2 separate regions of the Homo sapiens genome follow, and region 1 is linked to region 2. A link means that fine-mapping ties the variant in region 2 to the expression of a gene that starts in the linked region. Tissue or cell type: subcutaneous fat. Region 2 holds a variant in brackets; the other region holds the start of a gene. All regions are shown on one strand. Distances are between the middles of the regions.

Region 1 (5,220 bases), 27 kb after region 2:
CCTGCCTGCCCTCACTCCTCCTCCTCCTGGGGTTGTGTTTTTAGTTTTGTGACTCTTTAGAAATCATGAACTTTAGCTATCCCAAAGAATACTCTGAAGAACACAGGATGTGAAAGGCATCTCCTTGGATAAAAACCACAGAACCCAATGCCCGATCACAGGAGTGCTGCTGAGTTAACCTCTGATGTTAACTCAGGCCTCTGCCCTAGTCCTGGGGGAAACGGAACCAGAGAAGCTGGAAATGGAAAAAAATTAAGAAAATATATTGGTACAAATCCAATTCTAGAGCTGAGACCAAACTCTTCCTTGTTATTTGTTCAAACCTATGGGAGAAAAATAATAAAACCTTTTTCTCCTCCCTCCTCTTCGTCTGTGACAAATCCATAAATATAAAAAGATGAGACAGACAAAAGAGAGACAACTGGCGATCATTTCTGAGAAACGTTTATATGCTAACTTGGATTAAATATCCACAAAATCCAAGTTCGGCAAACTCTCTTCAGGCTTTAAAATTCCCAGCTCTACTGTCACACAGGCTGTTCTCAGAGCTTCAGGCCTGGAAAGCATGGCGGAAAGACAGGGCAGCAGAACTCCACCTGCCAGTCACCCGTTGACTCACCATGAAACAGGTGAGTCCGCCTCACTTCCTCAGCTCCACAGGATCCAGACAAAGCAGTCCTGGGCTCCTGAAAGCCTTTCTCCGAAGCTAGGGGTACCGTCTTTAGGGAGTTGGCAGGTCAGTGTAGGTACCAGTTTTGCCACAGTTCTACTTACAGGAGGGCTCTGGACCTTCCCACTCCTAATTCCAGCATGCCCCCTTCCGGGAGAAGGTGGGCTGTGTTCCTTTGCACATTTGCCCCAGTTAAGGAGAAACACCAAACACATATCCACTGAATTCCAAGAGCCATCAAAAGAGCTCTTGAGCTGGGCAGAACCGCAAGCTAGAAATTCCCCAGGAAGAGAGAGACTAAGAGACTCAACTCAGGCCTGCCAAGCTCAGGAGGCCTGGATGGAAACGGATGGGTGGTGGGGGATCAGATTTTTTGTATTCCTTTAAACCACGAAGACAGCTGAGGGCAGCCTGGGGAACAGTGTTAAAGGATCTAGGAGGTTCTGCAAAGGAGTGAATTCTGGGCGCATCAGATTCTTTTCCCGCTATCAGCTCACAAGCCTTTCCGGACCCTTTTACTATCATTGCTAAATGGAACTTATTTCACCAGTTACAAGAGTCTGGAGGCCACGGAGCAAAGCTAGAAAGGCCAGGGTTCTGAGAGTTGGATACTTGTCCTCACTCAAATTTTCCTGGGCCCTGGGCAGGGCCGGGCCGGCCGAGAAGCACAGCCAGCTCGACTCAGCCGAGTGTTGGCCTTGGCTCCTTCCCTACACCTACCTACCCATTCCAACCCCCAAATGGCAAGGACCTCTAAAGCCTGCAGCCAGGAAAATCCGACCCCACCGTAGTGAGTGTGCGCACGTGGGTTTTAATTTTGTCCTGTCTCAACTCCGTTGTCTCCCTGCTCAATCTGACACGTTCCGAACCCTTCAACCTGGGAAGGCACCTGGCGATACTGACGCACAGTCCCGTCGTTTGGCTGCCCGGAGGCGCCTTCCCTGCGGGCGCGAGTGCCACTCGCGCTGGGTCCAGACTCAGCCGGCTTCTCCCGGGAGAGGAAGCCCCGGCCTGGCGGAGAGTAGGAAGGAAAGCCCCGACAGGCCCACGTCCCAAAACTTTGCCTCCAGTCCTCCCAAGTGGAGCTGCAGCTGGCACTCCGAAGTTGCCCCCGCGCCCGGCCAAACTCCCGCACCTCAGACGCTCTTACCTGGCTTGGCGAGCTGCGCCTGCAGAGCCCCGGGCTGCGGCTCGGCAGTCCAACGCAGCGCGGCGGCCGCGGCCAACTCGGCAGCAGGGCGCGGCGGCTGCGGCTGCGACGGCTGAGAGGCTGGCGGCGGCTGCGGGGCGGCGACGGCGTCCCCCGGCGGCGGGGGCCCTGGCAGAGCGCGCAGCGAGTCGGGGATGAGGCTCTCCAAGCTCTCGTTGGCCTGCTGCCGGCGCAGCGCCACCTGCGCAGCCATGACCCGCTGCCGCTCGATGATGAGGATGCACTTCTCGCAGGTGCAGTCCTTGAAGCGGCAGTAACGCTTGTGGCCCTTGAGCCAGGACAGGACGCCATGGTTGCGGCAGCGCGCGCACTTGGGCGTGCGCTGCAGGGGCGCCCGTGGCGGCTGCGACACCGGGCCGCCCATGTACAGGTAGGGGGAGCCGTAGCCGTTCATGCCCCGGGCTCCCGAATGAGTTGGCAGCCTGGCTGCGGGAGAGGGCCAGGGAGCGCTGGACGGCGGGGCTGCGAGGCCCGCTCAGGGGCGGCCTCCGGGCGACGCGGCCCTTGGTCCCGCAGCCCCGGTGGTCGTGTGTGCTCCGGGGCGGCCGGAGGTGCCGCAGTCGTCTCTCCAGCTCCCTTCGCGCTCACAGCTCGGCCTCCCAGCTCACGCCCAGCCAACGCCGACGCGGGCCTCTGCCTTGGGCGCGCAGCCGGGTCGGCACGTCCTCCTTCGCGGAGGCGCTGCGGCGGCTGCAAGGAGCCGGCGACAGCTCTGATTAAGGTCTGAGCCAGCTCTTCTGCAGCTCCCTCGTGAGCCGGCCGGACCCAACACCTCCGCCGCCCTCCCCCAACCCCTCCTCCTTCCCACCGCCACCCCCGCCCCTGGGGTCCCTGTCTCCTTGCACTCCCCGCCCCACGCCTTCCTCCTCCTTTGCGCCCCTCGGGTGCCTGCACTTCACCTTCCTTGCCACCTGCAGCCAGGCCACTCTCGCGGGGGCGCTCGCGGCCCCCTCCTCCAAGCCCTCTCCGCTACCCCAGCCCGCGGCTGGAGACTGCGGCGCTCCAGAACGCGGCGGTGCTCGCGGGGCGGAGAAGGGGAGGACCAGCGGGAGTGAGGGTGGGGGTGCCTGTAAGCGAGTGAGGTGGCCGCTCCGCTTCTCTCTCTTCTCCTCCCTCCAGTCCAGATCTGGCCGCGTTTTTCCGAGCCCAAGGCCGCTTTTATCCCGACATTTGGCCGCAGAAGCTCAGCTCCGGGAGAACTCGAACCTACGGGAGTGTTGCGGTTGCACCCCGGACCTGGGTGGAGTTTAGGATAGGGGAGTGAAGTGATGTTGGTTTAGGAAAGTTAGGCTCTTTTCGTAATTTCCTTTTAGAACGTATTTTTTTCTCTTTTGTTGCTTTAGAAGAAAATGGTTTTGGAGATCTGCCGGCCCAAGGATGACAAGCCATTTTGCAGGCGAATTTTACTTTTCTACCCTCCTGTCCATGTTTTAATATAAAACAGTATCCTGAAAGGTCAGGGACGTACGTGCTCCTGTAAAGGATTTGTTAAGCGCCGGGTATAAACTTTCAAGGGGCAGACACAGAAGCCACATTGGCGCCCCCAAAGTTACCGATATCCTCTTCCCTCGCTCCCAGCAGCTACTGGAAGCAAACGGAGGTCTTGCGCCAGCCACTCAGTTCAAATCCCCACGGATTCTGTGATTCAGTTATGGATATGGGATGGGGCCACTTTTTCACCTCCTTAACCCATAGACCCCAGTCATAGATGTCTTGGGGGAGAGGGTCCTTCACAAGATGACAGCAGAAAACTTTGTTTAGATTATTTGCGTGTTCCCATTCTCCCAGGAGTAGCGGGCTTGGCCTAGTGCAGACTATCGCTATATATGCACAAAGAAGGCCCTCCACCCTCGCACCTCCCCACTGCCCATCAGCAAACAAGCAAAAACCAAAAAACAAACAAACAAACAAAACAAGTGGATACACTGCAGGGCAGCACAATAGCTCTATGCGAAGCGGGGCAGTTCCAGAGCCTTCGGTGGATGCGCTTCTGAGAGCGTGCACCAAGCCCATCTCCTGGTGGGGAATCAAATGCTAGATGAGAGCGTAGGCAAGTCCGCTGCAATGTCCGACCCCTCATGGGCACAGAGGCCCTTGTCCCCTCGGGGAGGCCGCTTTTCTCTGTACTGCCCTGGAAGTAAGCAAGCAACCTGAAAACTTTCCTCTGGTGTTTGCCATGAATTCAAGGGAAGCACCTCCAGGCGTTCTAGCAGCCAACCCTCTGCCCAGAAGGCTGATTTGCGGAGAGGAGGGTTGAAAACCGAACCCCAGTTGTGTGTTTCCCTTGAAGCCCTTAGCTGTTCCCGTTTCATACGCGTCCGGGAGGTGGGGATCGCGGGACACTGACCTGGTAGAGTGTGGACAAGAAGCTCTAGCATTCGAGTGCTAACCCTGGGAGGCCATCCTCCAAAGCCGCGTGGGGTAGGGACCCCTCGGTCTTGCCCCTTCCCCCACCACTTTAATCCTTCCTCTAGTCTCAACCTTCTCTAGGAAAACAAGCCCTAAAATACAACTGGAAGGAATTTTGTAAGCTCTGGGGACGGGAGGCAGAGGTCGCCCCCAGCCCTGTAGGCCCGAGGCTAGGAAATGGGGAGCTGGACGCGAGTCATTTAACGTGCTGCGATATAGAGGGCCTCAAATGACACCTTAACTGAAAACTATTGCGCTGAAACCTCCGGATCTCTTGGAAACGTGGGGACCAACGACTTTTTTCAAAACCAAATTTCTTCCGATTTTCTTCAAACAGTGAAACGAGGAAGTATAAAGAACTTGAGTATGAATAAATTTTTAAAAGGAAAGCAGAAGAGCTCTGCACCAGGTTTGTGGGGGCACTTTCACTACCAAGGCGACCCCTTTTCCCCCGTCGGTCACCTAGCCACCCTATCTCGTTGCCACTCAAACAGTCTGGCATTTGGTCCCGGGGGCCCGTTTCACTCCGGTGCACATCGGGGGCTGAGATCTAAATACTCATTTGATATAGTGCAGTAATCCTTTTCTCATATTTGATGGGAATGTTTTCCATATCCCAGTATTTGACAACATCTCCCTATAGGGACAGGTTTGTATTTATGTTGGTAAAATGTCCCCTGCCTCAAAGTCTATTGTAACCCAACACCTGACAACCCCGAGTCCCATTTCTGTTTGCAGAAAGGGTTTATTCAAGCACATAATGGGATCCCAGCAGAAAGCCTTTCAGAACAAGGGGCTGTGGTAAACTTCACCACATGAACTCCGTTTCCAGGGCTATTAAGCTTTTAATTGGAAAATAGCAGAGGAAATTTCAAGGTGACTATAACGTGTTAGCAGTTAGTGCAGAGAAGAAAAGCCGAAGCGGGAATGA
Region 2 (5,220 bases):
TGAACTCGGTCTTATGATACCAATGAATTACTTTTAATTTTGTCAGATCTGATCATGGCATTGTAATTATATATGACTATGCCCATTTTTAGAGATGTTTACTGAAGTACATAAGGGTGAAATGACATTATTTGCTTTAAAGACTACTTACCTCATCCAAAAGGAAGAAACAGGAAATGGGATGGATGGGTCAAGTGTCGTGTAGTCTTCGTAACTGCTTAATGTTGGTGATGTGTAGATTAGGGTTCATTTCACTATTCTCTATATATGTGGGCCTTTTATTTTTTTAATAATAAAGTTTTGTTTTGTTTGTTTTTTGAGACAGGGTCTCACTGCGTCACCCAGGCCAGAGTGCAGTGGTGCAGTCACGGCTCACTGCAGCTTCAACCTCCCTGGGCTCAGGTGATCCTCCCACCTTAGCCTCCCAAGTAGCTGGGACTACAGGTTCTTGCCACCACACCTGGCTAATTTTTTGTGTGTATTGTTTTGTAGAGACGGGGTTTCTCCATGTAGTCCAGACTAGTCTGGAACTCCTAGGCACAAGCAATCCATCTGCCTCGACCTTCCTAAGTGCTCGGATTACAGGCGTGAGCCACTACACCTGGCCAAACATTTTTTAAAAATCAAAAAGACATGCTCACTTCAGTGACATCAAGTAGGACAAAAGACAATTCAATAAGTTGATGATATTTTCAGCTTTGATGGAACGCATCCACAGCCCCTGGCAGAGCTCATCATCAGGGTCAGGTCCCTGAAATCATCCATGTCAGGTCCCAAATATCCCGCTTGTAAAACTGCATTGCATTCCATTTACCCATCTCAGAAAGATAGATGGCGCCATCAGCCTGGTTAGGATTGGTTTCAGTGACCAAGCATTTCTAATGAGAACACACTGCAGAAACCAACCACTTCCTTGCATAAGACATTCAGCTACAAACCCTGGTGGTTAAGCTGCGATGGGTTCTGCCAGCTTTGAGCTTGGGTCACAGACCTGTTCAAGGGCAAGTGTTCTTCCAGCACTCCGAGAAAGAGATGGCTGTTGATGCAGATGGCATCATACGAAAAGCTCACCTCCATTCATAAGAAGAGAATGCAAATGAAAGCATACTGAGATTTTCAAGTTGTGGGAAATCACAACTGAAAACACACTCACTGGGGATGTGGGGCAACTGACATTCTTGTACTTTATTGGTGGGAGTATAAACTGGAAAAATACCTATAAGGGGACAAATTGGCAGTATCTAGTAAAATTACCAATGCATGTACGCTTTGCTGCAGGAATTCCTCTTTCATCAATTCATGCAACTTATACTTGCTCCCAATTCAAATCACATTGGTCTAAAGTTATTTATTACTAAATCGTTTAATAGTAGATGACTTCAAAACTTAACATACTTACCAGAAGGGGACTGCTAAATAAACTATGGAACAGCCAAATACTATGTAATTTTTAAAATTTTTATTTTAAATAAAATTTTAATTTAAATTTAAATTTTTAAATGAAGAAACTATCTTTATAATTATATTTAGCTATCTCCAAAACATAGTAAGTGGACAGAAAAAAAAAGGCAAGGTAAAACAACTGTGTATATAGTATACTATAAATAATGTTTAAAGAAAATGAAAAAAGAATACTTATGCTTGCATGTGCATAAAATATATCTGGAAGGGCTGCGCATAGTGGCTTATGCCTGTAATCCCAACGCTTTGGGAGGTTGAAGCAGGAGGATCACTTAAGTCCAGGAGTTCAAAACCAGCCTGGACAACATGGTAGGATCCTGTCTCTACAAAAAAATAACATAAAATATAGAACAAAAATTAGCTGGGCATGGTGGCGTGTGCCTATAGTCCCAGCTACTAGTGAAGCTAAAATTAGGAGGATCACTTGAGCCTGGGGAGGTCAAGGCTGCAGTGAGCCGTGATCATACCACTGCACTCTAGCCTGGGTGACAGAGCGCTGCCTTGTTTGTAAAAAGAAAATTAAAAATAAAATATTTCTGGAAGGATGCCCAAGACACTAAACATTGGTTGCACTCAGGTAGCTCGGAGGAGGGAGAATTTTCCCTGTAAACCTTTTTATGTCTTTTTACTTTGGAGCTCTGTAAATCCCTGACCTTTTCAAAAAATAAAAACAATTTCCTAACAACAGAAAACAAAAAACTGTCGGTTGACTTTCAAACCAAGCTTGAAAAGAAAACATCATATTTTAATTAGGGGCTAGTCTGGGACTGGGAGTTGGAAATTGTACCCACTGGAACGTGGGCCACTAAATGGCAAAAAGAAAAAAAACACAGTTAAATTTCCCTGTAGGGGCAAAATATTTCACATCCAATTAAAGCCAACTTACTATAGCTGGTCAAATTAAGGCCAGTTTCATCTTACACTCAGGCTTCACTGTCCTGATGAGCTGGTCTCTGAAATCCTGAGGAGCAGACTCTGGAGGCTGGGCATGTCAGGGCCCCTGAGCCTAATG[G/A]CCCCAGTGTCAGCCCAAGATGGGCTCTCGGATGTGACTCTCAGGGGGAAATCCAGCTCCCCACAGCAACTGTGTGACCCTGAAGCAGCGTGTTAGTGATTCTGGGCCTTCTGCTGGGAAAATGCATGTATCAAGAATGCATCACTGAAACAGCACACAGTGGACTCGAGTTCATTTTTCAAATATATCTGTTCAAGTGAAGACAGAGCCTGTTTTTAAAATCTATGAAACAGTTCCTGTTAAAAAAAAATAGTACAGGAGCAATAAAAAACGTACCTACCTTTTAGGGCTGCTGTGAAGATAAGTTGAGTCGATACACGCACACAAAATAAAAGTTAGCTGTGGCCGGCATGATGGCTCACACCTGTAATCCCAGCGCTTTGGGAGGCCGAGGTAGGCGGGTCACCTGAGGTCAGGAGTTTGAGATCAGCCTGGCCAACATGGTGAAACCCCATCTCTACTAAAAGTATAAAAATTAGCTGGGTGTGGTGTTGGGCGCTCATAATCCCAGCTCCTTGGGAGGCTGAGGCAGGAGAATTGCTTGAACCTGGGAGGCAGAGGTTGCAGTGAGCAGAGATCGAGCCATTGCACTCCAGCCTGGGTGACAAGAGCGAAACTCTGTCTAAAAAAAAAAAAAAAAAAGCTATTATCATCAGGAAGGAAACATAGGATTTGGAACTACTTAAAGCTCAACATATCTGTAGCATCTGTTCTGCTTGACAGCAGTCAGTCATCTTAAAGGTCAAGCCAGTGTATCTACAGACCACACCATGTGACCACTCTGAAGAATGACAGAATGTAGGATTTTGGAACTGAAAGGGCTCATGTCCCTGTGGTGTCACCTCTTAGTTTCATTGTATGCTTTTCTCCACAGCTTCCCAGGCATGCAGAAAACTCTACCTCCTAGCCCTTTCCTCTAAGTGAAGCCATGGCACTGGATCCAGCCAATGAAATGTGAGCAGAGGTGAGGCCCTGGAAAGCCCACCAGCACACCCTCCCCTGCCAGGAAAACCACGTGTGGAAATGGTCAAGCCACAGTAAAGAAGGAAACTAAAGCCAGAGTGGCTGTAATCCCAGCATTTTGGGAGGGCAGATCGCCCAAGGTCAGGAGTTCAAGACCAGCCTGTCCAACATGGTGAAACCCCGTCTCTACTAAAACTATAAAAAACTAGCCAGGTATGGTGGTGCATGCCTGTAATCCCAGCTACTCAGCAGGCTGAGGCAGGAGAATCATTTGAACCTGGGAAGCGGAAGTTGCTGTGAGCCGAGATCATGCCACAGCACTCCAGCCTAGGCGACAGAGTGAGATTCTGTCTCAAAAAAAAAAAGGAAACAATTCTTGTGTCACTGCCTAAAGAGCTGCCAAACCCATGGCAGATTCTGCACGGGTTAAAGTTTTAAAATAAACCTTTATGTGTTAAACCACTGAAATTTTGGAGTGTGTTAGTGAAGTGTAACCTAGGCTACCCCACCCAGCCCTTACTGGCTTTAAAGGCATTCCTATTTTCAGCAAGGTTACAGGAGCTTACAAAATGGTTTTGCTTTTAGAGGGAATTTGACCCATGTGGTGTGATGAAACCAGTTAGCTTTCAGGCAGGCCAGAACTTACAGGCTGTTTGTAACATATGTCATTTGCTTGGGTAGACAGATCTTTGAAAACATCGGGTCCATGTGCTCGCTTCAGCAGCACACATACCAAAATCGGAATGACAGAGAGAACATTAGCGTGGCCCTGAGCAAGGATGACTCACAAATTTGTGAACCATTCTATAAAACAAACAAACAAGCAAAAACTGGAACCACAGTGGCATAAGGTTGACAAAACAGAACTTTTGGTACAAAAAAGTTGGGAAACATGGATAGTTGTCCCCTTGTTTTAGGGATGAAAATAGAGACCCTGGGAGAAGCAAGGGACCTGTCCCAGGTCACATGTAAGCCTTATAAGGAGCAAGTCTCCAGGTCAGACGTCGAGGGTGAGGGGTAAAGAGCCCTCCTGCTTTAGATCAGCCTGGTCAGGCTCAACAGGCACTCAGGGATTCCAGCACCCCAAAAAAAGTTCCTCCCTGTTCTAGGGAAAATTTTAGGGAATTGAATACCCTACATGGATCTGTCCCAAATTCAGCTACAGGAAAGAAGCACAAATGAGTGAGACCAAGACAGGGAACATCTAATTTGTTTCCATACGATATTGACAGATCTTCCACCTTTTCCAGAAATGCCTAAACACTCGGTGCATACGTGAGATCTCTGGATTTTTCAATGTTGGCAATTACTTGAAAATGAAAACAAAAACTCTGTACTAATCAAACAAAATACACCTGAGGGCTGGATTAGGCCTTCAGCCCATTTTGTTACCACTTCAGCTTTCCTGTTTTCTTAACTGCAGGGACATGACCGAGGCGACAGCTATAGTCATACCACAGACACATCGCTTCCGGTAGGGTTACAAGATTTAGCTAACAAAAACATAGGATGCCCAGTTGAATTCAACTTTGGATAAACAATGGATAATTTTTTAGTATAAGTATGTATAGGCCATACATATATTGTAGAGCATAATTATGTCCAGGGAATATTATATAAGTATTATATCATATGCTACATGTATCAGTATTATATATTATACTTACATACTATTCCCTGGACATAGTTATATATATATATACACACACACACACACACACACACACACACATAAAAATATATACCTATACAAATTCAGCCTGGGACATCCTTATGATAAAAAA

What was found. PIP is the estimated chance that this variant, and not a neighbour inherited with it, causes the effect.
Region 1: it holds the start of DMRT3, and the variant in region 2 is fine-mapped to the expression of DMRT3 in subcutaneous fat (GTEx, PIP 0.98).

The regions. Positions count from the first base shown.
Region 1 is chr9:974,056-979,275 of GRCh38, reverse strand. It overlaps DMRT3 (doublesex and mab-3 related transcription factor 3), which reads right to left and starts at 2,621. Exons shown (of 2, transcript NM_021240.4): 1 at 1,821-2,621. The coding sequence starts at 2,274. RefSeq lists enhancers at 2,454-2,953, 2,954-3,455, 3,988-5,220.
Region 2 is chr9:1,000,888-1,006,107 of GRCh38, reverse strand. It overlaps the pseudogene RNU6-1073P. Among named protein-coding and RNA genes, the nearest start is that of DMRT3, 27 kb to the right of the region's middle. The variant G/A (reference allele first, on the strand shown) is at 2,474.